Homo sapiens: one gene and its partners. The protein of the gene in region 5 interacts with the protein of the main gene of each other region in a pairwise test. Each region holds a gene or a part of one and is shown on either strand. Other genes may lie near its edges.

Region 1 (4,408 bases), on a different chromosome or scaffold from region 5:
AATAAAAACAGCACATGTCTTAGTGGTAACAGACTTGGGTTTGAGTCCCAGCTGCTCAGTTATCACAGCTGTAAAAAGAGGACATTAATAGTATCCACTTCACTCGTTATGATGCGAAATCAAGAGACAATGTAGTTTCCAGTTCCTGACGGCAGAATGTACACATGTTGGCTTCCCATCCCTCCCCAAATTACATTAAAGATTAAGAGTACAAAAAAGGAATAAGTCCACACCAGGAAAAGGTGAGGGTAGGCTCATCACTTGATGAGAGATTTATACAGATCTGAAAGTTAGAAAACAAATTCAAATGAAAAAGAACAGTGACAGCCACAGCCAAAAAATACATTATGGAGGACTAGGATGGAGGCTAAGCTTATCTGCCCATCAGAACCCTTGGGAGAAAAGAAGGATGAGGTCTCAGGGAAACAAAGGCAGAAGTAAGAAGAGGGGCAGAAAATGGGGAAACTAGTGCCTTCTCCACTCTATGAACACAGAGTATAGATAAGGAGAGTACAGATACTGAGGCAAAAAGATTCCAAGGTTTTTCTAGAAATAGCACAAAGCTAATGGAAGATCTAAGGCTGTAGTGTAGCTGCTGGTGCCCAGACAAAGCAATCCTCATTCTGAAATTTAAAGAATCTGTGGCCTGTTCACTCCCAATCCATTCACCCTAAGTCATGGTTCCCAAACCGTGTGTGAAATTCACCAGTTCAGGATACCATCTGAACTTAGAGCACCACAGCCAACTCAGAGAGGCATGTGGAGTATTTTAAATTCGAAGGAAACACAGTAACATCTTTCAGATACCATGCAATCTGCTATCATTAGGTTGTTTGGCCCTAACTATGAGGTATTTCTTTTGGACCAGGGGTGAAAATTACTAAAATATGAAATGTGCTGTGATCCATGAAAGCTTGGGAACCTCTGCTCTACAAAGCATGCCCCACCTATAACCAACTTCGTAGTCTTCTTACTCAAAGAAGAGGTACATTGGAAATAGATCTATTTCCTCAATTAAAACACCATACACCAGTTACTCCTTCTTAAATATAAGTGGACAAGCAAGGAAGGATCACCCACCATGAGGAAGAATAAGAGCATATCAGAGAGACAGAGAGACTCCCTCCACCCCTGGAAACATATAATTCAGGGAAAAGAGAGGAAAAAAACACCCTCTCACCAGTATACCTAGAGATCTGAGATTATTATATTTACCCCATAGACTGCTATGATAAAGGATCACTCAGAACAAGAAAGAGCTTTTAGAGACTAAAGACATGATTACTGAAATTTAAAAAAACAAATAAACCAAAGAATAGTTTGTTTGTTTTTCTTCCTCATGTTGGGTGATCCTTCCTTGCTTGTCCACTTATATTTAAGAATGAATAACTGATGTATGGTGTTTTAATTGAGTAAATAGATCTATTTCCAAGGTACCTCTTCTTTGAGTAAGAAGACTACGAAGTTGGTTATAGGTGGGGCATGCTTTGTAGAGCAGAGGTTCCCAAGCTTTCATGGATCACAGCACATTTCATATTTTAGTAATTTTCACCCCTGGTCCAAAAGAAATACCTCATAGTTAGGGCCAAACAACCTAATGATAGTGATGAAAAAGTTAAAGGAAATTTCCCAGAACATAAAGCAAAAAGACAAAGAAAGGAAAAAAGAAGAGACAGGCATAATCCAAGAAATCCAAAATCCAGTTAAGAGGCATCCCAGAAAGAAAAAATAAAGATAAGAAGCGAAAGGAAATTATGGAAGAAATTAATGGAAAAAAATTTCCCAAAACTAAGGTAGTATATGAGTCTCCAGATTATAAGGATCCAACAAGTACCAAGGCCATTAAAAGACCCACACTTAAGCACATTCTAATTAAATCCCAAAATACCAAAGAAAAAGTTCCACAAGTTCCAGAGAGCAAAAATGGTCACCTGAAAAGAGAATTACACCAGAATCAAATTTTTCATCAAGACTGTAGGCCTGAAGACAATGAAGCAGCGTCATCAAAGATATGAAGAAAGTTACTTTAGATTTCCATACCCAGTCAGAGGATGAATAAAGTAAAAGAGACTAAATTTATATTTAGATACGCACAAATTACCCCCTTTTGCACCCTTCCTTGGAAAATACTTGAGGATGTATTAAATAGTTCCTAAAATAAGCGAGAAAGAAATGCAGGCTACACAAAATAGTGGATTCAATCCTAGAGATGGGGTGAAAGTAAGTCCCAGCATAAGAGTAGACAAATCCAGATTGGAACAGGAGGATGGAAGAGGTCTAGGTTTTAGAGAAGGATTCCATGAAAGTGTGTTTCAAAAGACTTTTCTGTGTTTTTTCAGAAAAACCCGAAGCCATGATGAAGGAATATTGTTATTTTGACAAGAGTGGGGGAAAGGCCATTATAAACTCTAGGACAATAAAAAAGCAATACAAAAAAAGGCACTGTCCAAATAAGATAAAAACAAAAGCAGGGCCTGACTTTAAGCACTTGATGGAATACAAGAAAAGATTCCATATGACTGTGAGGTTAGAAAAATTTCTCCCTTTGAACAGACAAGCAGTTGTGACACTGGACCCATCAAGTATGATTTATAATCCTAGCATACTACTTAACTCTTCTGAAACAATATTTACTTAGTTATAACTATGTAATGTCGTTTCAATTTTTTAGAGACAAGCTACGGACAAAACACTCAAGATCTGGTTGTAGAACAGTGTGGGTTTTAACAGTCTCGTAAATGTAAAAGTAGAACATGCAGTTGACAAAGGTATGAGGTGGAAGTTGGGCCTAAAAGCTAAAACTTCTCATAAAGTGGTCTGTTGATGTGGGAGAGCACACCAGACAACCTCAGGAAGTATATACTAGGGCCAACACACAAAATTCAACATCTTAATACTTTCTCTTTTAAATTTTTATTTGTTTAGTTTTTGAGACAGGGTCTTACTCTGTTGCTCAGGCTGGAGCGCAGTGGCGCAATCTTGGCTCACTACAACCTCCGCCTCCTGAGTTCAGGTAATTCTCCTGCCTCAGCCTCCCAAGTAGCTAGGAATACAGGCGTGCACCACCAAGCCTGGCTAATTTTTGTATTTTTTGGTAGAGGCGGGGTTTCACTGTGTTGGTCAGGCTGGTCTCAAACTCCTGGCCTAAAGTGATCTGCTTGCCTTGGCTTCCCAAAGTGCTGGGATTACAGGCGTGAGCCACCACGCCTGGCCCGTCTTAGTATTTTCTTACACCCTGCATCCGTATTGGGCTGAATAATCCAAGCATCTTCCAGTAATATACAGACACTAAATTCTGATATGCATTTTCCGATAAAGGTTTGCCTTAAAAACTTTCCATTCCAGTCCACTCATGTAGTCTAGGAGTTGGTACACTTTTTCTGTAAAGGTCTAGATAGTAAATATCTTTAGCCTTCTGGGCCAAAAGGCCTCCAAATAATTTTGTTGGCATCCTAGTAGGCAGTGTCCTACTTGCCAGCCTCAGCTTACCACACTTGAGCAAACTTTTCCACCATCCAGTGGGCTACAGCCACACCTCCTTCAACATCATCTGAATCTTAGCTTGGGAAAGGGGTGGGGGCACCTATTCCAAATTTGTTCCTTCTGTGGCTATTCTGCCTCAGCCTTAGAAGTACTGACTACTACATGTATTTTCTAGGGATCTCTTTACCTTAGCGTTTTGTCCTCAGTAGTTAATTCTCTGTGCCTTGTTAATAATGTTTATATTAAATTTCCTGTATTCAAATTGCTGTGTGATTTCTCTCCTTCAAATGCACTGTGACATATATTTCAATAATTACGTTAAATATAAGTGGTCTAACTACTAATTGAAAGGTTAGATTGTCCTGTTGGACAAAAGAAGCAAGACTCAACTATATGCTGTTTACTTGATATCTGTTTTAAATATACACAGGTAAAAAGTGAAAGGAGGGAAAATAAGATATCATTCAGACATTTATCAAAAGAAAGTGGCTGATGGATACACTACAATCCCAGACTTCACCACTACTTGTTATATACATGTGAGAAACCTGCAGCTGTACCCCCTAAATATAAATAAATAAATGTATATATGTATGTATGTATGTGGTAGTGGCTAAATTACTAGGGATAAAGAAGGATGAACATTTTGTTATGATAAAGGGGCCAATTCATCAAGGAGACATATTTACTGCATGCTTACATTCTAGACATTGTGCATTTGTTTGTTCTCATATTTGTCAAAGCCTAAAAGGCAGGTATTTATATCTCCAATTTACATATGAGGGAAATAAGGCTATTAAGTGCAGAATACAGACAAGAAGTCAGAATTTTTTTTTTTTTTTTGAGACAGAGTCTCACTTTGTCACCCAGACTGGAGTGCAGTTGTGCGATCTTGGCTCACTGCAACCTCGCCTCCCAGGTTCAA
Region 2 (4,408 bases), on a different chromosome or scaffold from region 5:
GTCACCTGTAATCCCAGCTACTCAGGAGGCTGAGCCAAGAGAATCACTTGAACCCGGGAGGCGGAGGTTGCAGTGAGCTGAGACCATGCCATTGCACTCCAGCCCGGGCGACAAGAGCAAAACTCTGTCTCAAAAAAAAAAGAAAGCATTCTGGAGTCTGTAGGCTGCACCAAAAGGGCCATTATCCTGGTAGACTGGAAGGAGCCTGGGGCCCCTGGGAGTTGGGGTTTGAGGTGGCTGTGTGGCTTGTGCTGTCTCTTCTACTGGCAGTAGCAAAGGCCAGGGGACTGTTCAGGTCCTCCCAGACCCTAAACTCACCCCAGTTAGGGAAGAGTCACCAGTCGGGAGGGAATCACCAGAAGCTGAAAGCATACCCTGTGGATCCAGGAATGGCCAGGATGTCTGGGCACAGAATGAGGAATTGTACTTTTGCTGTGGAAGAGACAGGGTAGCTTCTCTGATGATCCTTCCTGTCGGCCCCCACCCTACCATGTTTCCCGGCAGAGAATGGTCAAGAACCTGGAGAAGGAACTAGCACTACTCAAGCAGGAGCTGGCTATCCATGACAGCCTGGTAAGAGGCTAGAGGCAAAGAAGGAGGGCAGAGGTGCTGGGGTAGGGGGTGACTAGAGGGACTGGGGCTAGGGGCAGACAGCATCATGGGTCAAGGCCAATGGTGGGCGGGGTTGGGGGGCAGGCTCAGTGGCAGGAAAGGGGCAGCAGCAAGGGTCCATGAGGACAGGGGTTGGGAGCAGAGTCCTCCAACGGTCCTGAGGGGCCTCGAGGCAGAGGCAGCGCATGCCTCCCGTCCTCGCCTTTCTCATGCTGCAGAGTCTGCTGGGACTCAGCCAGCAGAGCCTCTGTCTGGAGTAGCAGGACCCATGTCTGAGGGTCTTTCCTTTCCTCCCCGACCCCATTATCCCTCTCTGACCCAAGCACCTGGCCTGTTGTGTCAGGCCCTCTGGCAGGACCCGATGATGAAGGGAAGGAGCCAGCTTGGGCAGCCAGGGCCTGTGCCCAGCCTCCCCACTTTGCCTCTCAGAATGGCCCCTGCCACTCCCCTGTGGGCTCAGGTTCTTGTTGCTTATCCACATGTTCTTCATCCTCCTTCAAGACCAACCGCACCTTTGTGACCTATGACCCCATGGATGAAATCCAGATTGCTGAGATCAACTCCCAGGTGCGGAGGTACCTGGAGGGGACACTGGACGAGATCGACGTAAGGAACCCCTCTGTGACCACTATGCTCAGCCAGCCTGGGCCTCCCAGTCCTGGGCACACCCCAACGCATGCTCTGCTGGCCTCAGAGCCTCATGTGAATGGGTGCAGTGGGTGGAGGGTGGTGCTGGACTCTTGATGTCAGGGTCCCTTCAGCTCATCTCAGGGGCACAAGCACAGGCCCTAGAGCCAGGCTTTCTAGGATTGAATCCCAGCTCAGCTGCCTCTTTGCTGAGTGACCTTGGCAAAATACTCAACCTCGTGTACTTCAGTGGCCTCACCTGCCTAGTGGGGAGGGAAACAGAGTGGGGATTAACTGAGCTGCTGCACCTGGGGTGCTTGACTGTGTCCGCAGAATGAAGCTGATGAAGGATGGTGGTCATGCTGGTTGTCTACAAGGTAGACCCCAGGGCCCATGTTGGAGTGGGCCAAGGAGGGGGAAACCACCCCACAAGGAAGGGTCCTCAGGGGGAAGGCTGCATCCTGTTTTCACAGTGCAGTCCATCAAACCCCTCTTCTTGGAGACATGGGCAGACCCCCCTGGCTGTTACTGTGGGCAGCTCCGAGAAGCAGGCCTGGGACAACTAAGGGATGGACTCTTCTGGCCTTCACAGGAGGGGCAGTCCCAAATTAACCCTTGATCAAGGGGAATGCTGTGGGCTTTAGGCTGGGGGGAGGCCAGTAACCTTCCTCCAGCCTCGTGTGTGTGTCTGTGCCCATGCAGACAGGACCATAAATGGGCTCCATCTGAAGACAGCAGGCAGAACCTTTTGGAAGTAAGAGAAAGCTGAGAAGTACATTTTATTAAAAAAAAAAAAAAAACCTTTAGAAGGTATTTTCAAGGTATAGAATCATTTCATTTTATAGAGGTCTCCACTTCGAAAAGGTGGTTTTTATAGCCTCAGCAAATACTTAGTTTTAAAATTATTAATCAGGTGTTTCTCTGCTCTGGAGGAGGGCTTGGCTGCCACTTCGCTGAGAGGCTGTGTGCACACGTCCTCTTCTCGAGACAGATGGTCCAGGGGTCAGCCAAGGGGTCTTGATTTCTCTACTAACATAGATGCCCCCTGGTCCCTCGAGGTGCCCTTGGTCTAACCTCTGCCTTGCTGTCTTCCCTCCAGATAATCAGCCTTAGACAGATCAAGGAGGTGTTCAACCAGTTCCGGGTGGTTCTGAGGTGAGAGACCCCCACCCCTACCTCATTCCTACATCAGGCTGCCATTTTCATCTCCTGCCATCTGGGCACTTGCCTCCAAGAGCTCCTCTTCTTGCTTGTGGATGAAGAGCCAAATCAGAGTCCTTGGGGGCATGCCTGGGTCCCTGGTGGATATTCAGTGAGTTCATTAATTGGACAGGAGGTGTTTATGGAGTGCCAGCTCTGAGAGTGCCCAGAGCAGGGCATTGTGAATATTCACCTTGTGAATATTGCAACACACACTCCCACCTCAGGAGGCATTTGTGGTTTATTTGGGTGCAAACATACCCATAGTCTGAGCAGCTTATGCTAGGTGGTGTCACTAAAGCTGGTCATGTGATTCCAAGTGGCCTCTTAGAGACAGAACCTAAGACAGAACCCCACATGGTCCCAAGTGAAGCTTACGGTCCTTATCAAGTGTCATCTTGGAGCAGACACACATGACATAAGGTAGCCCTTGTGGGTATGGGGGTCGGACAGTGGGTATATGCAATGGGGCAGGGGGAAGTGAGTCCTTTGTCCTTTTGTCTGGTCTGGTTCATGATGAAGGTGTGGCCCCACACAAGGGGCCTCACCCATATGACTTTTAACCCCAGTACTTGGTTCTTGCCCCAGTGGATTCAGCATGGCCCCAGGTACAAGCTGTTCTCTCTTGCTGTCTCCCAAGCCAACAGGAACAGGAAGTGGAGTCCACTTTGCGCAGGAAGTACACCCTCATTGACAGGAATGACTTTGCAGCCATTTCTGCTATCCAGAAGGTAAGCATAGTTGCTACTTGCCGACAGCACTCACCTCAGATTTCCCATCCTCAGACCTTTGCAGAGCCAGCAAGTATTAATGCATTAAACCAGAGCTAGGATTGCAACAGATAAAGGTAACACCAGAATGAACACAGGTGACCTGTGTTAAGAGTAAACCACTTTTGAATTAAAAATAATTTCCATAAGGTAGAGACATGGATAATAATATTAAAGACGATTTCCTGGAATTAGGTTGGAAATAAGCTTTAAGATCCCCAGAGTATGGAATGAGGTGCCATACTGGTGAGGGGGTGCATGTGGAAAGTGGACATTTGGCAGAGTGGTCAGGGACCGCTCTACAGGGGACAGCCTGAGGCTGGCATCAGCAGCTGTCAAACCTTGGTGTGTATGGTGAACATGTCCACCCTGAGCCTTGGGCCATATACATGTGGGTCCCCAAGGGGTCCAAGCCCTTAATCTAACTCACAGACCTTTGGCTGGCCTCTCTATGTAGGCGGGGCTTGTGGATGTTGATGGCCACCTAGTGGGTGAGCCTGAAGGACAAAACTTTGGACTCGGAGTCGCCCCTTTCTCTACCAAACCTGGGAAGAAAGCCAAGTCCAAGAAGACATTCAAAGAGCCACTCAGGTGAGTGACCTTGCCGCTCTGCCTCCTCAGCAGCTGGCCCTCCTCGGTGGGTGCATGGGAGGATGTGCACTGTTCCCACTTTCCCCCTGGTGTCTCAGCTACTGGGTTGGCACAATGGACGTCACTGCTGCCAATACTAGCAAGTCTGTGGGGCCCGGGCTGGGGCTGGTTTGGAACCGCACAAGAATCATCTCTCGTCCTCACAGCAACCTGGTGAGGTGGGAGTTAATGTCTTCATTACACTGATGAAGAAACAGAGGCTTAGAGAGGGGAAGTCACTCACCAAGGCCATACCACCAATGAGTAGTGGAATGGCAGCAAGAAGCTGGACCAGCTCTCCAGAGCCCATGCCCTCTGGTACTTTATGTTGTACCCCCTCCCCTCACTTCACTAGGGTCTTCCCGCCGACTGGCACTCAGGTCACCTAAAACTCCAGTTCACCTTTCAGGCAAGACTCGTTTGTATGTGCAAGGTGGGAAGAGCATTTAGGTTCACTTAGTGAGCCCTCCCAGGGTGCTGTGTAGTGGTGGGTAAGAGCACAGGCTCTGGAGCTGACGCCTGGGCTCCCTTCCCTGCTCTGCACTTCTCACACCCAAGGGGTCACCCCA
Region 3 (4,408 bases), on a different chromosome or scaffold from region 5:
CAAGACAAAGTCTGCAAAGGAATAGATATAAGAAGCAAACATGTAACAGACAAACTCACAGTGCTGCTGACTTCAGAAGAGAATGAAAAAATACTTGCTTTCACAAGTATCTGTTAAGAAATCTTTGTAATCAGATTGAAGTTGCCTGCTCTATTCATTGAGCTGCCCTATCAGACCTTGCTGAAGTACCTGTGACCCATCACACAACACAGGAGCACATGGGGCAGCTATATGCATCCCCTCACAGCACCCCTGAATCCCCAGTCACTCTTGCTCTCCACAGGCTGAAACAAGCAAAATGTTTGATTATAGTTTCTGATTCAGGACATGTGAGTAATTCATAGGAAACAATTGAGAAGTTTATGTTTAAAAAACAAAACAAACAAAAAAAAAGTCCCTTTCTATAACAGAAATGAATATTTAAAATGTGGAATGGTGGCAAGCCTAGTTTTCATTCTGAGTCTGTGAGTGCAAGCTAAGTGTATCTTAGGGAATGCATATCTTATTAGATACACTTATTTAAAAAGTGTTATAAGCAAGGCACACAGCAAGGAAATATGATGAATGAAAAGAGAAATAATATCAGCTTCCTGCTGTCAATGGATCCCTGCCATAGTCAGTGATCAGACTGTGCAAACCACTTTATTCTCCTCTTATTTTAATAACTTCTGAATTCACCAGTCTCTCCAACAAAAGGGCATCAGATCCTAAAATAAGCTGTTTACAGCTGTACCAACAACTGGAAAAGAAAAACCTAGTTATAGACATACGGCAGAAATGGGGCTACAGCAAAAACAATTAATTTGTAAAATGGAACTGGAAATTTGCTTGTCTGTTTTTAATTAATATTATGTAGTGCTGACCATATGCCAGGCACTCTTCTCATTTAACACCTAATTAATTTAAGTTTCATACATATTATCCTCATTTTGTAGATGAGGAAACTGAGGCACAGAGAAATTGAGTAGCTTGGCCAAGGTTACACAGCTCGTAAGAAGTAGCAGAGCCTCCAACAAAAATAGAAGCAGCACAAATTGGCTTAATCTGAATTACTCAGAAAATCTCTAAACGTGTATTTTCATGCCTGATACAGAAGCTGGCTCATTGGAAAGTTTAATGTTGGCCAATTATGGAAATTTCAATGGAAAACAGTTCTTCCCAATAAGAACAAATAAACTGACTTCTGGATTGCCAAGTAAGTAAATAACTTAGAGTCATACATCTTATATTTTATAAAACAATCATAATTTCAACCTCAATGGTTTTGAGTACTGAATTCTGAGAGCCCACGGTCTAGACAGTTTCATGGTTTTTAGCAACGACCTCACCATCATTCCTGACCTCTGATGTGTGCAGGGCCTGGAAGTAAGCTGTACAGACTTTAGCAGTTCCACCCTAAGTGAGATAAATCAGAACCCCTGCACTATCCCTTAAGATAGTTCCATCCCTTTAGCACAAAGCAATGAAACTCTAATTTGGTGTCACATTGAATGAAAACATCACAACTCATCCATCCAACTTAATGTGATCCTTTTAAGTAATCAACTCAGGCAGATCAGCAAAGCTATCAATTGCCTACAAACATGTTTGGAATCCTTCTTCAGAAAATACTTCCAGAGTCACTTTAGTATAATCATCCAAGTTACTTAGTGCTGCTCTGACTTTAGCACCCTGGTTTTGTAAAGACATTACCCTGTCAAATTTAGCTTATCTCTAAATGGCCTTTCACTAGTACCAAAAAATAAGCTCCTACTTTTGAAGATGAAGAAAACCTAACACTGATATTACTGAGTGGCATATACCAAAAATATTCTTTAAGCTACGTAACTACATAATTCAGAGGTTAACTGCTCTGAAGGAGACAATAGTCTTCAGTTGTTGATACAGACTGAAAAATCAATAATCATCCTTCCTAGCCCTGCCTTATACTTCAGTATGATCTTTTCTGATATCTCAGCCACCATTCAACAAATATCCTTCTAGGATTTCTCCTGACTATAAGGAACAGATAGCAGGAATAAAAGTTTGCTCTCTTAATTGCAAGACTTTCAGATGGCTCTCAACTATTCCAGTCCAGAAATAATATTTTTAAAATGAGCTATTACTATTATGGAGTACCATCAGAACGCCCATGGCGTGTCTGTTTTTGATAAAAGGACCTAAACGCAATATGGTTATTTCTGCCACTTATGCACATGAGGTCAACAGAACAACACGTCAACCAAGCAGAAAAACAATTATTTTGTTTTTCTTTTTAAAGAAAAACAAAGTAATTGTTCAACCATTGTGATCACTCATATCTCTGCTGCTTCTTTGCTTAACAAGGAGGAACATTCTTTTTTTTATTATTATTATACTTGAAGTTCTAGGGTACATGTGCACAACATGCAGGTTTGTTACATACGTATACATGTGCCACGTTGGTGTGCTGCACCCTTAACTCGTCATTTACATTAGGTGTATCTCCTAATGCTATCCCTCCCCCCTCCCCCCACCTCACAACAGGCCCTGGTGTGTGATACAAGGAGGAACATTCTTAAAATTAGCAAGGTATTAAAGACAGAGCTTCCAATAATAGAAAAGACTTGAGATGATACCAGGTGAATGCCAGAAATCCCATTCCACATCGTACAAAAATAATACTTTACCTGCGGTCCATTTTAAATTGGGTACCACAACCAACATGTGATGAGGAGTCAGATGACTCAAGAGGGTAATTCTGAAGCTAGAGCAAGCATGATCTTTTCGACCACACACACCGGCCGACAAACGCCGTCAGCTTACCAACAATGATTCCAGGTCTCCTGTCCATCTCCACGATGTGAGGGTGGACCCCTTTATAGGCAGCATCGCTGACCACCTGGGTGTTCTTCCTCACTCTCTCTGTCACAGGATCGTCCACGACGGGAGTAAAGCCTCTCCCCTTTGTTTTTTCAAAATCTTCATGGTATTTTACCTGAAAAAGGAAAAATCATCATACTGAATTTTGCGGATAGTTACCTCTTTCACAACATTTTTATTAAATGACAGGTGTACACTGCACTGGCTGCGTGCAGATTGTCTACATGTATGTATCTTTTCCAAATACTCCAAAACTAAAGTCTGGAACTTCAGTTTCTTAGCATCAGAAATCAAGTGCTGATATTTTCACAAAGTTTTTAATCATTATAGCTCATATCTATTTTAAATTATATATAAAACTATATATATATTATTAATGAGAGCTTGTAAAAATACATATTCTCAAATCCTGGTTACTTCCTAAAATATACTAATTTAAATATAAATTAAATTTCCTATCTCTTCAACTTCAGTATGCAATAAAGTGATATCTATTTCCAGGCAATCATTCATGAAAATGGCATTATTTAAAATCAGTTTGAAATTTTATAGGTAACAATATATACCACTTTTAATATAATTACAAAAACTTATACTTCAAAATATACTTTTTTTATGTCCTGAAATTAGGTCCAGGAGATAGTTGTGTAACTGTAAATTATACTAGAAACCATTGAATTGAACACTTTAAATGGGCAAACTTTATGGTAGGTAAATTACATCTGATAATATAATTTTTAAAACACACATTTTTAAAAACACAGCTTTAAAAACACACTTCTTTTCATATCCTTTATGACAGGCAAACAGACCAAATTTTGTCTTAGAATTAATTGGAAAGAAGTCTACACAAATATCTTTCACACTATGAGTTTACAGTAGTCACGTTAGAAATAAAGACACACCAGAAAAAGTCACTGAGAAAAATCATTTTATTAGACTAAATGTTTCCACTGCATTTCAGTGTGATTAGAAATGCCCCTCCCTCAAAAGACAAGCCAACCACATTTCCATGCTTTGTTAGTTATCGGATTAATAGTGAAGTAATGCCATCCGTGCACTGGATCCGCCCATTCCTTAGCATGTTTTAAGAATGATCTGGTTGGACCCTACCATTGAAATATGATTTTGTGCTTCTTTAACATGTCTCATAGCAGGTGTATCTAAAATCAGACTTGGTCTACCTTTCATCTGTTTATGGTCCTGGGTATATTTTACCTGCAAAGTAAATAGTAGGCATAAGACAATGATAAGAAAACACATGATGTAACATTTTTAAGCTTTACAAATGAGTGAAACATATGCAACATACTTGAAATTATTTTCCAGGTAACTATTTCAGTGAATTAAATTTTGTTCTAGAATAGCAACCTAAAATTTTACAATCAAAGATCTCCTCCACCGCCTACTGCTAAATGACCTAAATCTATCAACTCTAAACAAATGTGTGAATGACCAATAGTAACTATCTATCTAGTCTGTAAACCTGCGCAAGCCCGAGGACTCGTATCTGTAATCACAGCACTTTGGAAAGCTAAGGTGGGAGGATGACTTGAGGCCTGGGATT
Region 4 (4,408 bases), on a different chromosome or scaffold from region 5:
CAGAGGTGTTCACCAAGCAGATCCAGCAGCTCCAAGGTAATTCCCAGGACTTGGACTGGAGGGAGGTGGCCATCCAAGTGGTCACCTAAGTACTTTTTTCCTGAGGGTTTGACTGAAGCACAGCAGATAAAAATAACCAAATTCAGTAATTTCACCTCATTTTCCTCTACTAGTCTCACCCTTTTCCTCTCCTTGTCTCTCCATCCTCCTCTGTCCCCAGTTTTCTTTCTTTGCACATCTACCTGGCTCTTCTGTCCTCCCCTTCCATTTCTTGGCCTCCCTGTCACCTCCTGTCCCTGGTGGGCTCTTTCCTCTTGCCCCTTCAGCCTCCTCCTTCATACTGCATCCCTGTCCCTTTGTTCTCCTGGTCAGTGCCAGGGGTGGGTGATCCAAGTTGAATTCCAAGCCGGATTCCTTTTTCTGGTTCCTCCAAGGATGGCATGGGAAAGCATGAAGCCAATGAGAAGTGACTGGTGGGGCCTCTCTGCACCTATTAAGAGAGACAGATGACAGCACTTCTGTTGCTGCCTGGGACCTGAGCTTGTGGGCCCCAAATCCCTTTTTGCCAACACCCACGTCCCTTTGTCTCTGGGAAGCAGCAAGGCAGATGCCCCACATTCCACCACACCACCAAATAAAGAGGCAGCTTTTGTTACTTCTGTGGGCCTCCGGAAGGTTTAGGGGAGCTGCCCTAGAAAACGGCAGGGACTCTGGGGAGAACTGAGATCAAGCCAAAAGAAAAGTATAAATGGAGAAAAAAAAGGAAGGCCAGGAAGCAGGCCTGGACAGGAGCAAGCAGAGGTGTAAGTGGGGAGGAGAGGAGACGGGGACAGAAAATGTAAGCAAAGGTAGATACAGGAAGGGTGGTCAGTGAAGGGGCTTGCAGAGGAGGAAAGTGGCAGGACACGTGTCACATAGGGAAGAGTGTGGGCATTGATCTGGGATGACCTAGATTCCTGGGCCCAGCTATACCACTTAGAAATTGTGTGATCTTGGGCAAGTCACTTATCTTTCTGAGATGTCATTTCTTATCTGTAAAATGGGACTAATTTATTTATCACCTATTTATGAGGTGCCTTTATACTTGGAGGACCAGCTGTGAATGAGACAGACCACATCTCTGCCCTAATGAAGAGTACATTCTAACGGAGAGAGGCAGAAAATAAACAACACAAGTTCAGATGGCAATAAATGCTATGAACACGATATAATAATATGATACAGAGAGGAGGTGGGATGGGAGTTTATTTTATTTTATTTTGAGACAGAGTCTTACTCTGTTGCCCAGGCTGGAGTGCAATGGCACAATCTCAGCTCACTTCAACCTCTGCCTCCCAGGTTCAAGCGATTCTAGTGCCTCAGCCTCCCGAGTAGCTGAGATTACAGGCATGCGCCACCACACCTGGCTAATTATTGTATTTTTAGTAGAGATGGAGTTTCACCATGTTGGCCAGGCTGGTCTTGAAGGGAGTTTATTTTAGATATGGCAGTTAGGAAAGTCATCTTTGAGAAGATGACATTTGAGCTAAGACCTGAATAATGAAAAGGATCCAGCCATCCAAGATCTGAGGGAGGAGCATACCAGGCAGAAGCAACAGCAACTGCAAAGGCCCAGAGGTGAGAATGAGCTTCATTTGTTTGAGCGACAGAACAGAGGCCACTGTGTTTGCAGCAAAGTGCACGTGGAGGACCCTGGCAAGAGAACGTTCTGAGGCAGGCAGAGGCCAGATTACAGTGGATCTTGTAGGCCAGCCAAGAGGTTTGGCTTTCATGTTAAGTGTGGTAGAAAGCCAGGAGAGGGTCTTAGCCAGGAATGGGATGATACGATCTGCTTTACATTTTTAAAAGAGAACTTGGCCACTAAGTGGAAACACTTAAGATGGAGGGAAGTGACTCAGAACAGTGAGTCCTGTCAGCAAGTTACTGCAATAGTCCAGTCAAGAGATGATGGTCGCTTGAGTTAGGGCTGTAGAAATGGAGATGATTCAGAATATATATATATATATATTCTTTTTTTTTTTTTTTTTGAGACGGAGTCTCGCTCTGTCGCCCAGGCTGGAGTGCAGTGGCGGGATCTCGGCTCACTGCAAGCTCCGCCTCCCGGGTTCACGCCATTCTCCTGCCTCAGCCTCCCAAGTAGCTGGGACTACAGGCGCCCGCCACTACGCCCGGCTAATTTTTTGTATTTTTAGTAGAGACGGGGTTTCACCGTTTTAGCCGGGATGGTCTCGATCTCCTGACCTCGTGATCCGCCCGCCTCGGCCTCCCAAAGTGCTGGGATTACAGGCGTGAGCCACCGCGCCCGGCCCAGAATATATTTTGAAGGTGAAGCCCTCGGGATTTGCTAATGAATTCGATCAGGGGATAACAGAGACATGAAAGATGACTTTGCCTTGAGAAAATTGATGGAAGGTGGTGATGTTTATTGAATTGGGAAAGACTTGGCAAGGGGTAAGTTTTGGGGCTAGGGGAGCCATTTAAAACATGTTTTCCTCTGTTGAGTTTGAAGTAACTGTGGACATCCAAGTGAATATATTGAGGCAGTTGGATATATAAAGGCAGAACCAGGGAGAAAACAGGGCCGGAGATGTAAATTTGGAGTCATTAGCATATAATTGGCATTAGAATCCATGGGAAATAATGGTGCAGTCACATGGAGAGACACCAGAAGAGGAGAAAGGGTCCAGTCCCAGAGACACTCCAGTATTTAGAGGTCCAGTATAGAAGGAGAAATGAACAAAAGAGTAAAGTGAGAGGAACTCCTGGAGCATGTCATGCCCTGTAAGCCAGAGCAGAAAGTGCTTCAAGGAGACAGTGATCCACTGTGTCAGGTTGCTAAGTCAAGTGAGATGGTCTTGGATTTGGCAAGAGAGAGGACCCTGAGACATCTCAGTGCATGGAGGCACCGATTGGATTGGGTTTGGAGAGGAAATGGGAGATGAAGGTGAGTACCGATAACTCCAGTAGTCATTTTGAAGAGAAGCAGAGAAGTAAGGGAAATAGGGTCAAAAGATTATTTCTTTTCTTTTTTCAAAGGTAGGAAATGCTAGATCATGTATAATGAAAGAAAAGATCCAGTACAAAAAAAGGCCTTTGCCTGGAGAAGGAACGTTCCTCCATTCAAACGGGCGAAAAGTCAGAATTGAAGCAGAGATGCAGGCAGGAACTACCTGGGAAAATAGGGTTCTATTTTTTTTTTTTTTGAGACGGAGTCTCGCTGTGTCGCCCAGGCTGGAGTGCAGTGGCGTGATCTCGGCTCACTGCAAGCTCCGCCTCCCGGGTTCACGCCATTCTCCTGCCTCAGCCTCCCGAGTAGCTGAGACTACAGGCGCCCGCCACCACACCCGGCTAATTTTTTGTATTTTTAGTAGAGGCGGGGTTTCACTGTGTTAGCCAGGATGGTCTCGATCTCCTGACCTCATGATCCGCCCGCCTCTGCCTCCCAAAGTGCTGGGATTAAAGGCGTGAGCCACCGCGCCCGGCCGAAAATAGGGTTCCAGAGCGATTCTCTCCTCAGTAGAGTTTTTTGTTTGTTTTGAGACGAAGTCTTGCTCTGTCACCCAGGCTGGAGTGCAGTGGCGAGATCTTGGCCCACTGCAACCTCCTCCTCCTGGGTTGAAGCAATTCTTCTGCCTCAGCTTCGCGAGTAGCTGGGACTACAAATGCCAGCCACCACACCCGGCTAATTTTTGTATATTTAGTAGAGATGGGGTTTCGCCATTTTGGCCAGGCTGGTCTCCAACCCCTGATCTCAAGTGATCCACCAGCCTCAGCCTCCCAAAGTGCTGGGATTAAAGGTGTGAGCCACCGTGTTTGGCCGACAATACCATTTTTTTAGGGCCAGAAGCACCTAAGAGAGAGTTGAACCCTAACATCAAAAGCATATTAGGGAGGTGGAGGTTGGTCTGTTTCTCCAGAACACCCACCCCAGACTCTAGGGCCTTTGTCCTAATGGCCAGCTTCCTCTTGTGTCTCCCTAGCTAGACAGACCTCACTGTGCTGCTCAGTAGTGGGGGTAGAGCGGACTTTTCTTCCAATAGGAAGTCAGAGAATCTAACAGGAGATTCTTGGCCTTGGCACGCAGTTAAGGATCAGTTAATAGTTGTTGAATAGATCAAGGAGACGTAACAGCTAGGATCATTCTAGAACTGGAAAGATTGGCAAAAGACATGCCCATAGTTCCACATGTGAGCTCAGGGGAGCAGGGTAGATCTTCCCCTGAGATGCCCTCACCACTCAGCATCTATCTATGAAGCGTGTCCAAATTTGTCTTCTTTGAAAGTCTAGATTCTATTCTAATTTTTAAAAAATATCCAAACAGGGCCAGGTGTGGTGGCTCATGCCTGTAATCCCAGCACTTTGGGAAGCCAAGATGGATCGCCTGAGCCCAGGAGTTTGAGACCAGCCT
Region 5 (4,408 bases):
CTGAGGCCAGTGGATTGCTCCAAGCTCAGGAGTTCGAGACTACCCTGAGCAACATGGTGAGACCACCCTTGCTACTAAAAAAATAAAATAGCCCCGCGTAGTGGTGCTGCGCCTGCAGGCCCAGCTACTTCCGAGGCTGAGGCGGGAGAATCACTTGAATCCGGGGGCAGACATTGCAGTGAGCTGAGATCGTACCACTGCACTCCAGCCTGGGTAACAGAGTGAGACCCTATCTCAAAAAAATAATAATAATAATTTAAGTATTGAAATATGGAGTGATTTAAACGTAGATATGGATAAATTACTTTTGTAGGCTCAATTTAAAAAATCTAACATATGAGGTATTTTGTTGTTTTTTGTTGTTGTTGTTGGAGACAGTCTTGCTCTGTCACCCAGGCTGGAGTTCAGTGGCACAATCTTGGCTCACTGCAACCTCCACCTCTTGGGTTCAAGCAATTCTCCTGCCTCAGTCTCCCACGTAGCTGGGATTACAAGTGCTCCCCACCATGCCCAGCTAGCTCTCTGGGATCACTTTTATAAGGGCACCAATCCCAACAGTGAGGGTTCTACCCTTATAACCTAATCACCCCAAAGGCCCCAACTTCCTGCTACTCACATTGGTGATTAGGTTTCAATATACAAATTTTGAGGGGAGAAAAAAAAATAAGCACACAAGACGTATTAGCCGTTGTTGTTTTCAACTAACATAGCATCCTTATCTGTTTCATCCCTTTCATTTTCTGTGCCTTTTATGGCCATCGGACTGAATTTGTTTGTTATTTGTCTGTGAATAGACTATGAGGTCCATGAGGACGGGGATGTTTTTGTATTCATGGTTGTATTTCCAGCACTTAGAACGGTGCCTGACACAAATTAAGTGCCCAGCTATTTCTTAAATGAATGACTGAACCCCATTTTGCTCTGATTAAACAAAGCCACTAGGTGGTTAATAGCATACCCAAGGCCATTCAGATGAAAGTGATAGAGCCAGATAGGATTCAAACCTAGGAAGTCTAAAGCCTATACTCTACACAAGTGAAGCTCCAAACACTTTCTTTTAGGTACCCTATACAGTCACCTACCTAGTCTAGGTCACTTGGTAGTTTATCCATGCATCCAGTGGTTTCCCATCCCTATTCCCTTACTCTTTTTGCATTTCACATGAACTCCATCTACCTTCACCTCTCCAGACCTTAGTGCAACTCATTGAAGAAACCTGAGGTTATCTCCCATTCATTAATTCACCCACTCAGTCAACAAGTATTTTTTTAAGTGCCACCTGTATACCATATCCAGACTTACATTTTGTTCAGCCACCTCTTGTATTATTTGTTTTCAACTTGCATTGTCCTTGGTTGTCAATGGCTTTGCTTCTTTTTAGGTGTAAGCTTTATATTATAGAAATGTTGGTTGATTCATGACAGGCTCTCTAGTGTAACAAATCCAAATTACAGTTCTAGATGCACACAGTTTGGGTTTTGAATTCCAGCCTTACTAAATTCCTTAATGTTTTTATTCCGTGATTTCCTATAAAATGATAATAGTATTTATTCCGTGGAATTATCGGGAGGATTAATCAATGTATGTAAGCTCATAGATGCTTGGTGTATACTAATAATAAACTTATTATTTACATATTATTTTATTTGTAGCTATACTTACTCAGCACAATATTATTATTTTTCTACTTCCATGGTGCTTAGTGTAGTTTTTGTTGTGGTTTTCTAGTTTGACTGAAAATGTAGAAGATTGCAATAGTCGTGTTCCTGAGTTTGACACATAATCATCATTGATCCCTGAAAGGCTGCTGTTTTTCTAATGTATTTATTCTTTTCATTCCTATAGCTCATTCCATTTCTTAATGCAAACATTTTAATGTTTTGTTTACATGTATTCTTGAGAATGTGTATCTTTTAACTTTACAGAAATGTAAATTATATGCTTTGTTTTAGTTCTCATCTCTTTTTTCCTACTCAGCACTGTTTTTGAAGTTATCTATTACTTTGTATACATCTAGTCCTTTGCTTCCAACTCTTATGTAATTCTTTGTGTGCGTCTACCAGTCTTTCTACTCCTACATTGCTAGGCATCCAGATTGCCTCCAGCTCCTTGCAACACATGCAGCATTAGACATTTCTCTTCTGGACCTCTGTGAGCATGTCTTTGACATATATAAATGTCTCCTTCATTTAACTAAGTGTACTGCCAGGTTATCTCCAAAATAGCTGCCCTGCTGTATATTAGTAGAGTTTTTTTCTCTATCATACGAGCACTCAGGATTCTCTGCTTGAAGACTCTTTAGGAATAAGATGTTTGCTCTCAAATATATGAAGAAATACCTATTGTAGAGTTAGCCTTCCATAATTTATTGAACCTAAAGCACCTCTGTTGTAAGATGCATCATTACATACATTGCTAAGGTTAAACACTTCCAGTTGAATTGTTAAGTGCCTTAGATTGTAAAATGCATTCCAATTTTAGAGATGTTAAAATGTGAGAAAGTGTGAGTCTGGAGTTGATGAAAGAATATTTAAAAAATATTTTTATTAAAGAATATGTATATGTATGTTAATGTGTGTATGTGTGTATATATATGTTTACTTCTTACATGCCCTGGGAATAACACCTTAGACAGGCAAACAGCACTACACACATGATATATATTTTTTCACTTATTTGTTTATGTATAAATTGGTATGTGACATATTTCTTTATATGTTTTAAAATAACACCTTTATTTGTATGTGTTATTATATGTTTAGTTATGTCTTTATTTTTGTCTTTATGTGTGAAGCACTCCAGATGAACAAAGTGCTACACTGTTTCTTGTGAGCAGTGATTCTAAAGCTAGTACACCCCACTGAATTTTGTCCCTCTGGTCGATTGTGAGGACTCAGAAGTATATTGGACTCCTGGTGTTAGAGCTGTTTGTTTTCTTGGTGTTTCAATGAGGTCCAGCTCTAGAAGAAAGCAAAGAAGGTTCATGGGGTATTTTGAAATGAACAGGGTCCCCAAAAGCCTGATGGATCTGGTAACACCACGCGGTATTTGATTCAAATCTATCTGGTAGCATCCTCTCTGAATTTTTAAGTGAAGAAGAAAGGGGCTCAATTTGGTAGTGCTGCCATATACTTTTTTTTTCTTTTAATTTTTTTGAGACAGAGTCTCACTCTGTTGCCCAGGCTGGAGTGCAGTGGCATGATCTCAGCTCACTACAACCTTCACTTCCTGTGTTCAAGCGATTCTTGTGCCTCAGCCTCCCGAGTAGCTGGGACTGTAGGCCCGTGCCACAACGCCCAGCTAAGTTTTGTATTTTTGGTAGAGATGGGGGTTTCACTATGTTGGCCAGGCTGGTCTCGAACTCCTGGCCTCAAGCAATCCACCCATTTCAGCCTCCCAAAGTGCAGGTGTGAAGCCACTGCACCCAGCCATGCCATACACTTTTTAGCCTGGGCAGGAAACTTAAAGCCTAGGTCTTGAAAGAAAGGTATTTTTAATTGGTCATTCATTCTCCAAAGCTTATTGAGCATCGTATGCTAACGTTATGAAAAATAAATTTTCCTCACTAGACTATAGCTCCATGATAATGGTTGGAAGTCACAGGAAAGGTAGATTTCTGCTCAGTGTAAGCCTGTTATTGCTATTAACATTGAAATGGCCTGATCTTAAGTTTCTGAGCTTCCTGTCATTGGAAGCATTTAAGTAGTCCTGAATAGTCAACTGTTAATAAATATTATAGGTATTTCTATTTTGGAAAGAGATTGAACCAACTGCCCAGGGTTTCAAGGATTAAGTTCAGCAGTTAATACCAGAGACTTGAAAAATGGTGGTTTCTGGTAACAGAGACCTGGAAACCATGGCTTAAGCAAGAGAAGGATTTTGTTTCTTTGGTATAACAAAAATCCAAAAATAGGTATTTTAGTAGACCTCAAGTGATTACTCCTTGATCGCATTAGGAACCCAGGCTCCTTTTAACCTTAGCTATTTTCAACATATGCTTTTCACCTGAAATCATAAGATAGCTTATCTGCCTCCAGTATTGTGTACATGTAAAAGGTGGTAATAAGGAGAAGGATAGTGGAAAAGGGGGCATGTGCCAAATGAGTCAGTCCTCTTTAAAGAGTTCTTCCAGAAGTTCAAGCCAGTGGCCTCAATTGACTAACATTGTATAGCATGACCACCCCTACCTACAAGGGATGGGAAGCTAACTGGACATGTTGTTACTAATAAAAACCAGAGTATGTCAGAAAGAAGGGAAGGTTTGATGTTGGGAGGCAAGTAAGTTTTTTCTTCTACCCATCAAAATCTTTTTTTAGTTAGAAAATATTTGAATCTAACATGTCCCACTCCATTGTGGCACCAATACAAATGGTTATGGATACATGGCTTTATTATAGTTTGTTACTAG
Region 6 (4,408 bases), on a different chromosome or scaffold from region 5:
TACTGTGGACCAAGGCCCTGTGCTAGAAGTGGAGAAGCAGAGACTAATAAAACAATACAACAATAAAAAAAATTACAAATAAAAGACCTGGAGCCTTGGCTAAATCTTGGCACCTGGGTGAACTCCCCTGGGTGAGTCAGTGGAGTTCTGATTTGCATTTCCCCATGGCTAATGATGTTGAGCACCTTTTCATGTGCTTATTGGCCATTTGTATGTCATTAAAGAAATTAATTTTGTTTTGAATTTCTGTTCTTTTTTTGTTTTTTCTTATTTTTTGTCATATGTTTGGATGTGGAAAGATACTTATTTTCCTTTTTCTTTCTTTTTTTTATTTTTATTTTTTATTATTTTTTTATTTTTTTATTTTTTTTGAGTTTCTCTCTGTTGCCCAGGCTGGGGTGCAGTGGCGTGATCTCAGCTCACTGCAACCTCCGCCTCCCCGGTTCAAGCGGCTTTCCTGCCTCAGCCTCCCAAGTAGCTGGGACTACAGGTGCACGCCACCAAGCCCAGCTAATTTTTTTGTATTTTTAGTAGAGATAGGGTTTCACCATGTTGGCCGGGCTGGTCTCAAACTCCTGACCTCAGGTGATCTGCCCACCTCGGCCTCTCAAAAGTGCTAGGATTATAGGCATGAGCCACTGTGCCCAGCTATCTTTGGAGAAATGCCTGTACAGAATCTTTGTCTGCTTTTTAAATACTGAGTTGTAGAAGTACTTTACATATTCTTAAGTCCCTTATCAGATAAGTGATTTACCAATATTTTCTCCCATTCTGTAGGTTTATTTCTGCTTTTTAATGTATTCATATGCAGTATAAGGACTTTTTGGTTAACAGCAGACCACATATATGACAGTGGGCCCATAACATTATAATACCATATTTTTACTGTATTTTTTCTACGTTTAGATGTACAAATACAGTTGCCTACTCTACTCAGTAGAGTAACATGCTGTACAGCCGGGTGTGGTGGCTGAAGCCTGTAATTCCAGCACTTTGGGAGGCTGAGGCAGGAGGATCGCTTGAGCCTAGAAACTTGAGACCAACCTGTGCAACGTGGCAAGACCCTGTCTCAAAAAATAAATTAGCTGGGCGCGTGGTGGCGTGTGCCTGTAGTCCCAGATGCTGGGGAGGCTGAGGTGGGAGGATCACTTGAGCCTGGGAAGTTGAGGCTGTAGTGAGCTGTGATCGTGCCACTGCACTCTGGAATGTATTCCCATGGTTAAATGATACATGACTGTATGTGCATTTACAGCTATATATTCTAAGCATGGCTGTAACTGCATTCCGTGTTTTGGTATATCATGCCTTCATTTTCATTCATCTTGAATTATTTTCTAATCTCCCTTGTGATTTCTCCTTTGACCCATTGGTTATTTAGGATTGTTTCAATTTCCATATATTCATGAATTTTCCAGATTTTCTTTTCTTCTATGAGTGTTTAAGGAAAATATGTATTTTCTTGTTGTTAGGTGGAATGTTCTGTACATGTCTATTATGTCTTGTTGCTTTGTAATGTTTAAGTGCGTTTCATTGTTGATCTGCTTGGTTCTATCTAGTATTGAAAGTGAAATACTGAGGTTCTGTTTTTTTTTTTTGATACGGAGTCTCCCTCTGTCACCCAGGCTGGAGTGCAGTGGCATGATCTCAGCTCACTGCAACCTCTGCCTCCCGGGTTCAAGCAATTCTCCTGCCTCAGCCTCCCAAGTAGCTGGGATTACAGGTGCCCACTGTCACGCCCAGCTAATATTTGTATTTTTCGTAGAGATGGGGTTTCACTGTGTCAGCCAGGATGGTCTTGATTTCCTGACCTCATGTTGGCCAGGCTGGTTTTGAAGTCCTGACCTCAAGTGATCCGTCCACCTGGGCTTCCCAAAGTGCTGGGATTAGAGGTGTGAGCCACTGCACCCGGCGAGATCTTTATTACTGTTGGTCTGTTCCTTTCACTTCTGTGTATTTTTATTTTATATATTTGAGGTTCTGTTGTTACTTGCATATATGTTTGATTGTTTTCTTCCTGATGAATTGACCCTTCAGTCAAATTTAAATCTCTCTTTACCTCTAGTCACTTTTTTTGTTGTTTTAAAGTATATTTCATTTTATATTACTAATAGCTAATAAGCTAATAAGTAAAAGACCAGCTTTCTTAGGGTTGCTATTTGAGTGATATATCTTTGTTCACTTTTTTTTTTTTTTTTTGAGACGGAGTCTCGCTCTGTCGCCCAGGCTGGAATGCAGTGGCATGATCTTGGCTCACTGCAACGTCTTCCTCCCAGGTTCAAGCGATTTTTGTGCCTCAGCCTCCTGAGTGGCTGAGACTACAGGTGTGCACCACCACACTCAGCTAATTTTTAGTATTTTTAGTAGAAATGGGGTTTCTGCCATGTTGGCCAGGCTGCTGTCAAACTCCTGGCTTCAAGTGATCTGCCCATCTCAGCCTTGCAAAGTGCTGGGATTACAGGCATGAGCCACCAAGCCTGGCCCACTCTTACTTTCAATCTTTTTCTCTCATCAACTGTAAAAATGTGTTTCCTAGGCTGGGCACAATGGCTCACTCCTGTAATCCGCCAGGCGGATCACCTGATTGGGAGTTCGAGACCAGCTTGACCAATATGAGGAAACCCCATCTCTACTAAAAATACAAAATTAGCCAGGTGTGGTGGTACATGCCTGTAATCCCAGTTACTCCGGAGGCTGAGGCAGGATAATCGCTTGAACCCAGGAGGCGGAGGTTGCCGTGAGCCGAGATCGCACCATTGCCCTCCAGCCTGGGCAATAAGAGCGAAACTCCATCTCAAAAAAAAAAAAAAAGAAAGAAAGAAAAATGTGTCACCTATAGAGAGTGTATAGTTAGATCTTACTGGTTTTTTTTTTATTTGAATTCAATCTGACAATCTGTCTTTGGATTGGATTATTTAATCCATTCATATTTAATATTGATAATTAGGTTTATTTCTTCCATTTTACTTTTTTTTTTTTTTTTTTGAGGTGGAGTCTCGCTCTGTTGCCCAGGCTGGAGTGCAGTGGCATGTGGTCTCTGCTCACTGCAAGCTCTACCTCCCAGGTTCACGCCATTCTCCTGCTTCAGCCTCCTGAGTAGCTGGGACTACAGGCGCCCGCCACCACACCCAGCTAATTTTTTGTATTTTTAGCAGGGACGGGGTTTCACCATGTTAGCCAGGATGGTCTCGATCTCCTGACTTCGTGATCCACCCGCCTCAGCCTCTCAAAGTGCTGGGATTACAGGCGTGAGCCACCGCGCCCGGCCCCATTTTACTTTTTTGTTCCTCTTCAGTGGCTTTTCTTTCACATTTTTTCCCCAATATTTTAATTCCTTTAATGATGTATTCACTAACTTAACTCGAGTAAGATATGGAAATGTTACTCCCACATGGCCCTGTTCCTTCTTCCTCTTTTTTGTGCTATTACCGTTACACATGTTATGCTTTGTATACAGTGGGAGTGTGGTCTTCCTAGTGCTTCATCCTTTGTAGACAGAGTAGAAGCCTGTACATAATGCTTTTGATCATCTTTTCACTGAATTTGATAGCATAAACCTTTTCCCTTACTACTTGGATGGCTTCACATTGAGTCTCGTTTCTCCCTCACTTCCCACTCATCTCTTCCTGTATGAAGCAAGGTTTGTGGCCACTTTGCCTCTTGGTGCTCCACTGCTGAGGTTTCCTCACGCCCTGGGATTTTCTTAGTGTCTGGCTTGACTGGAACCTAGCAGCCCCATCTCCATCTGTGGAGCCAGAACTGCCAGTGGTGGGTGCTTTGACCATTGATAATGGAGGTACAGCCCTTGTCCTCTTGTGTGAGGAGCCGAGGTCTCATAGCAGAGCCTTTTTCTTTCTTTGGTTTTTCAGGGCAGCCGATGAAGTGCAACCTTCACATGAATGGGAATGTTATCACCTCAGACCAGCCCATCCTGCTGTGAGTTCCAAAGGCGGGGTGCTGGGGAGAGGCAGCTCCGTCCATCTCTTTTTGTTCTAATGGGTAAACTGCCTGCATCACAGCTCCCCTTCATCCCCCCATTCCGTTTCCTCTGTTCTAATGGCAGCTGGCCGTTTCATATGCTTAAACTTGACCAAAATGGTTTGCTTTGTTATTTCCCCAGGGCTTGACCCTATAGGGACTAGCATTATGATCTCGTTCTCAGCTTTCTGATTTAGAAATATCTGAGTGGAAGTTGGAGGGGGAGGCTGCTTGGGTCTCCTAGCTGTGTGCATCATCCCGGGAACAGAGAACTCCACTGCATGATTGGCTCTGATGGAGACAGTGCCAGATGCTACCCCTTATTTTGTTCCCCAGTGAGGTTTTTTGTTTGTTTGTTTGTTTGTTTGTTTTTTGCTTTTTCAGTTATTTTGAGAGTCTCACTGTGTTGCCCAGGTTGGTTTCAAACTCCTGG
Region 7 (4,408 bases), on a different chromosome or scaffold from region 5:
ATTCAAAGGTGAACCAATAATTTGGAAAAACATATACAAAAGGTACTTCCAAATCCATTAAATACATAGATAAGATAGCCATTTTGGCACTTCTCTGCATTTGTACAGGATGAGTATATCTAATTTGGACCTCGAAAGCACCGTATTGGTGTTTTCATTATACAAAACCAAAGCTCCATCCTTACAAGCACCATTAGGCTGTGGTTCTGAGAGGATTGCAGAAAAACAGGTTTGAGTGTTTGGGACTCACTCAAAGCCATGGGCGTGTATGTATGTTTTGTAAACAGAAAAGATGGTGCAGGTACTGGCTGTGTTTGTGTTCATCGTAAAAATACTCCTATCTGCCTGAATGTTTCCCCCATCTGTACAAAGGTCGATTCTTGGTGCTTTGGTCACCTTAGAAAAAAATGCCTCCACCCCCGGGGTCCTCTTTTAGAACAATATTTATGCAATACCTTGCCCATTGCTTAGAATGATGCATGTAAGGTTTCTAAATGGTCATGAAATGACATCACTGTTGTCTGGAACTCTAATCTTAGTTGTAATGCATAGTAGCACAAATTGTGCAAAGTGACATGATATTTTAGAAAGTATGATCAAGATTTCTTGGAAACTATGAGAGCTTTAACCTATCAATGTTTTTTGAAAGACACAACTTTTGATCTGAATTTTCTTTCCTTTACCAGATATATCTTAAATCCTGCAAAATGCTCTGCCAAATATTAAATGCAACTTTTCGTTAAAAATTTCATTAGAAAATATTAAGTGTGCATCTCTATTTTAGGTCATAAGTAATCTAAAACAATTTCAATATGTATTTGTATATAGCTTTAAAAGCCACATGCTCTTGACTAATAGAAATTAAACAGAGAGCAAATCAATGAGTCTGAAATGCATAAAGGCTTGAAATTATAGTCATCACTGTGTAATATAGTGTACAAGCTTAACAGCACACCTAGCCTTGAAATTGTTGGCAGGAAAGTATTCTAGTCCAATGAGCTGCCACTTCTGTTGTGGGCGGCTTGATAAAAACACATATTCAGGGTGAAAAGCGCGTAAGGTTGCCAGACAAAATACAGAACGGATGTCCAGTTAAATGTGTATTTCAGATAAATGACAAATAGGTTTTGAGTATAAGCCTGGCCCAAATATTGCATGGGCCATACTTATATTTTTAAAATATTCATTGTTTATCAGAATTCAAATTTAACTGGGCATCCTGTATTTTTATTAGCTAAATCTGGCAACCCTAACAGCATAGATTATATGGCAGTTGGGAAGAACAAAATAGCCTGGACAAATTAATATCTATTAATGGCATCAACCATTCCTTCCTCCATTAAATAAATATTCCTTCCTTTCATCCTCTTTTCCCTCCTTTGTTCCTTCATTCCTTCCTCTTTCCCTTCTTTCCTTCCTTCCTTTTTTCTTCTTTCCTTCCTTCTTTTCTTCCCTCCCTGCATTCCTTTCATCCTTCAACAAATACTGGTTGTGCTTTTACTATGCACCGGACTCTATTATATTTAACAATGGAAGTATAATACTGAACCAGAAGTTCTACCAATTGTAATAGCAAAACATGCCAAGCCTTGCAGCAAGCACTTTGCAAACATTATTTTGCTTTATTCTCACAAACAGCCGTATGAAGTAGAGGTTGATTCACTCATGATAGGGAAGAGAAAATGGAGGCAGAGAGATTCTGCCTGAATTCCCCAAGGTCCTACAATCTCTGAGCCTCACTCATTCATTATGACATATCTAGAAAGCCATCGTTCCACAGCAAGCACTGTGCTAATTCCCAGGGAGTAAGCCATAACCAGGACAAGAGTCTGCCTTTGAGGCTAGTGGCAGACAAATAGATGAAAAACTCTAGGGGAAATGCTGAAAGGAGCACACAGGAGGTGGCTCTGCCTGGTTCTGGGGGAAGCCGGGATGGGGAACAGTGGTCTCAGAGGCAGTGTTTGGAAAAGAATGCTGGATTTAACCCCCAACTCACTTGCTTTCATGAAGACATGCCCCACTTCTACATCTTTATGATGTGGACATAATATCCTTCTCATAGGAAGGTTGTAAGAATTAAATGTATGTAATTATTTTCCTTAAAGCCCATAGTAGGTTTACAAGAAAGCACATAGTAGGTCTATAAGAAAAGCAAGTTCTAGGTAGAGCCACTACATGCTCTTACCATGCTCTGTAGCCTCACCTGCAGCGTAGAGAACTTGCAGCAACTTCTCAACTCTAACTAATTAATAATCCTGCAAAATCTCAACCTGCTGTTTGATTCAGATAACAATGACAGTGAAACTACCGTTGACTGGCCTCTTTTTATAACTCAGGCATAATTATTCATATTATCCTCATTTTGCAGAGAGGTAAACCAAAGCTCAAAGAGTTTCATGATTTGTCCAAGAAGACAAAACTAAACCTGGAGGTAGGTTTTGAACCCAGGACTGTCCAATGCTCATCAACTTTCTCCTGCTCCTTGGTTTCCTCCTCCTTGCCTGATGGTTTCTAGGTAATACTCATGGCTGGATGTACCTCCAACAGCCCAGAGAGAAAGCTGTAAAATGTGGCCTAAGAGCTGAGAGGAGAAAGGACACTTTCCTGGGCCTTTTGGAGGCTCCAGCTATCAAACATTGCAACTCAGGGGCCCAGGACTGACCCGCAGGGTGAAGCAGAACATCCTTGTTCTCTTTCTTTTAATGCTCTTGTTCAATCAGGCAATTATACATTTGCCATATGGTGTCTAACCAAGAAATGACCCAAATTCCAGTGAAAATACATACACCTAATATTAAAAAAGAACATCCTCATTCTGACCCTCAGGAATTCATTTTAGGGAAAGGAAATGAGAACTGAGGAAACAGGGTCAAGTACAATAATCTAGCATCTCTCAAGCAGCAAGAAACAAATGCATCGTCTTCCTTAACGTTTGCATTTTTTCAAAAATATTTGGCTTAACTCCGTCTATGCATCTCAGCCTCCATTGCACCTTCCCCCCTCATTTGGACTTTTGAATGCTCAATCCTGACGTGTATAATTTGGTGCTTTAATATAGAGTAACATTATTTTTCATTTACTCCAATCTGCCATCAGTATCATCTTTTCATTTAACCAGATGCAATTCTTTTTTCTTTCGCTAAATTGAAAATCCATGAGCGACAGGGAGTGCAATGTTTTAATTAGCTCATATTTTTTATATGGATTTATGTCTTTAAAATACATTTGTGTAATTCTTCAGCTAAATTAAAAACGTCTTTGCGAAAGTGAGGAGGGGAAAATAAAGAGCTAAATTGTGTCATTAGCTTAGGTGGTTGCAGATGAGGAGCAGAATCTGGTGGAGGGACACACAATCGCCAGAGCTGCTCTCTGTGAGGATCTTGAACTTGCCCTTCCTGCAGAGAAGTCTTTCTCCATAAAGATCTCTCAAAAATGGCTTGGGGAGGATTTTTTTTTAAGGCCTCTAGTAAGTAAACAAGCAGTTACCTTCACTGAGCTAATTTGAAACCCAACCTGCCACCAAACAAACAGAGAAAAAGAAGTCATAATGATAAACAGTTTTCCTTGCATTTCTCTTTGTCTTTTTCTTTTTTTAACTATCAAGTTTAAAGCTTTCCACGATGCTTTTTTCTACTTTCTAGGAGACAAGTGACATTCTGTGGTAAATGGGAGAAAAAGCCATGCAGAACTGAAATCTCTCTAACGCATTGACACTAACTTGCCCTCTATTGTTGGAAATGAGCAGGCGTTCATGATTGTTCATCAAACGGCTCCTAATGCAGTTAAAGCATTCAGCTATAATTTCTCCTTGCATTTATAATTACTGTCATAGACTGCACACCTCGGTGAGCAGATTAAAGCTATAAACTATTTAGCCTCGGCTCTAAGACGAGGAACTTGATTTGTCTGGCAGGAGTTATTTGTTAGGGAGCTTGACACTTCACATAAAAATGACTCAACTTGATGAAGAACAATGCAGTTTTAGCAATGTGGGGATTTTAAATCAGTCATGATGCCACGCCCTGCAAGAATCGCAGGGCAGTTTGTTAAATGATATGTAGGCCAGGGAGATAAGGGAATGTGTTAAGGGTACCAAAATAGAAGAGGATTTGGTGTGCAGTTGCTTTCTTTCCCGACTCTCTCCTGGAAGATCAGGAGTTTGTTGAAAATCAGTGCATGTCATGTTCTCCTATTAAATCCAGTGTAAATGTTATGTGAGGCTCACCTGGAGGGAAAAGGGATGCCAGCAGCCACAGGCACATGTCACATTTGGGGGTTTTACAGAACTCTGTGTAGCTGTTGAGAACATTCGCCTCCAGAAGCGAAGTTCTGGAGTATATGGAAAAGCCAGGAGTATATGGAAAATAGTTGTTTGGTTTGGTTTGTTTCCTGGAACATGTTCATGTAT

The links.
Region 1: the proteins of PIBF1 (region 5) and GMCL1 interact in a two-hybrid assay, tested with the Homo sapiens proteins (one large-scale study listed by BioGRID).
Region 2: the proteins of PIBF1 (region 5) and KIF9 interact in a two-hybrid assay, tested with the Homo sapiens proteins (one large-scale study listed by BioGRID).
Region 3: the proteins of PIBF1 (region 5) and NEBL interact in a two-hybrid assay, tested with the Homo sapiens proteins (one large-scale study listed by BioGRID).
Region 4: the proteins of PIBF1 (region 5) and CCDC136 interact in a two-hybrid assay, tested with the Homo sapiens proteins (one large-scale study listed by BioGRID).
Region 6: the proteins of PIBF1 (region 5) and POLDIP3 interact in a two-hybrid assay, tested with the Homo sapiens proteins (one large-scale study listed by BioGRID).
Region 7: the proteins of PIBF1 (region 5) and TSHZ2 interact in a two-hybrid assay, tested with the Homo sapiens proteins (one large-scale study listed by BioGRID).

Annotation. Positions count from the first base shown.
Region 1 is NC_000002.12:69,832,138-69,836,545, reverse strand, and holds part of GMCL1 (germ cell-less protein-like 1), read right to left. Parts: intron 1-4,408. UniProt on the Homo sapiens protein: Possible function in spermatogenesis. Enhances the degradation of MDM2 and increases the amount of p53 probably by modulating the nucleocytoplasmic transport.
Region 2 is NC_000003.12:47,244,183-47,248,590, reverse strand, and holds part of KIF9 (kinesin-like protein KIF9), read left to right. Parts: intron 1-504; coding exon 505-573; intron 574-1,113; coding exon 1,114-1,218; intron 1,219-2,338; coding exon 2,339-2,394; intron 2,395-3,079; coding exon 3,080-3,170; intron 3,171-3,666; coding exon 3,667-3,800; intron 3,801-4,408. UniProt on the Homo sapiens protein: Essential for normal male fertility and for progressive motility of spermatozoa.
Region 3 is NC_000010.11:20,809,985-20,814,392, forward strand, and holds part of NEBL (nebulette), read right to left. Parts: intron 4,060-4,408; coding exon 3,955-4,059; intron 2,957-3,954; coding exon 2,785-2,956; intron 1-2,784. UniProt on the Homo sapiens protein: Binds to actin and plays an important role in the assembly of the Z-disk. May functionally link sarcomeric actin to the desmin intermediate filaments in the heart muscle sarcomeres.
Region 4 is NC_000007.14:128,794,733-128,799,140, forward strand, and holds part of CCDC136 (coiled-coil domain-containing protein 136), read left to right. Parts: coding exon 1-36; intron 37-4,408. UniProt on the Homo sapiens protein: May play a role in acrosome formation in spermatogenesis and in fertilization.
Region 5 is NC_000013.11:72,784,522-72,788,929, forward strand, and holds part of PIBF1 (progesterone-induced-blocking factor 1), read left to right. Parts: intron 1-4,408.
Region 6 is NC_000022.11:42,587,031-42,591,438, reverse strand, and holds part of POLDIP3 (polymerase delta-interacting protein 3), read left to right. Parts: intron 1-3,866; coding exon 3,867-3,933; intron 3,934-4,408. UniProt on the Homo sapiens protein: Is involved in regulation of translation. Is preferentially associated with CBC-bound spliced mRNA-protein complexes during the pioneer round of mRNA translation. Contributes to enhanced translational efficiency of spliced over nonspliced mRNAs.
Region 7 is NC_000020.11:53,258,638-53,263,045, forward strand, and holds part of TSHZ2 (teashirt homolog 2), read left to right. Parts: intron 1-4,408. UniProt on the Homo sapiens protein: Probable transcriptional regulator involved in developmental processes. May act as a transcriptional repressor.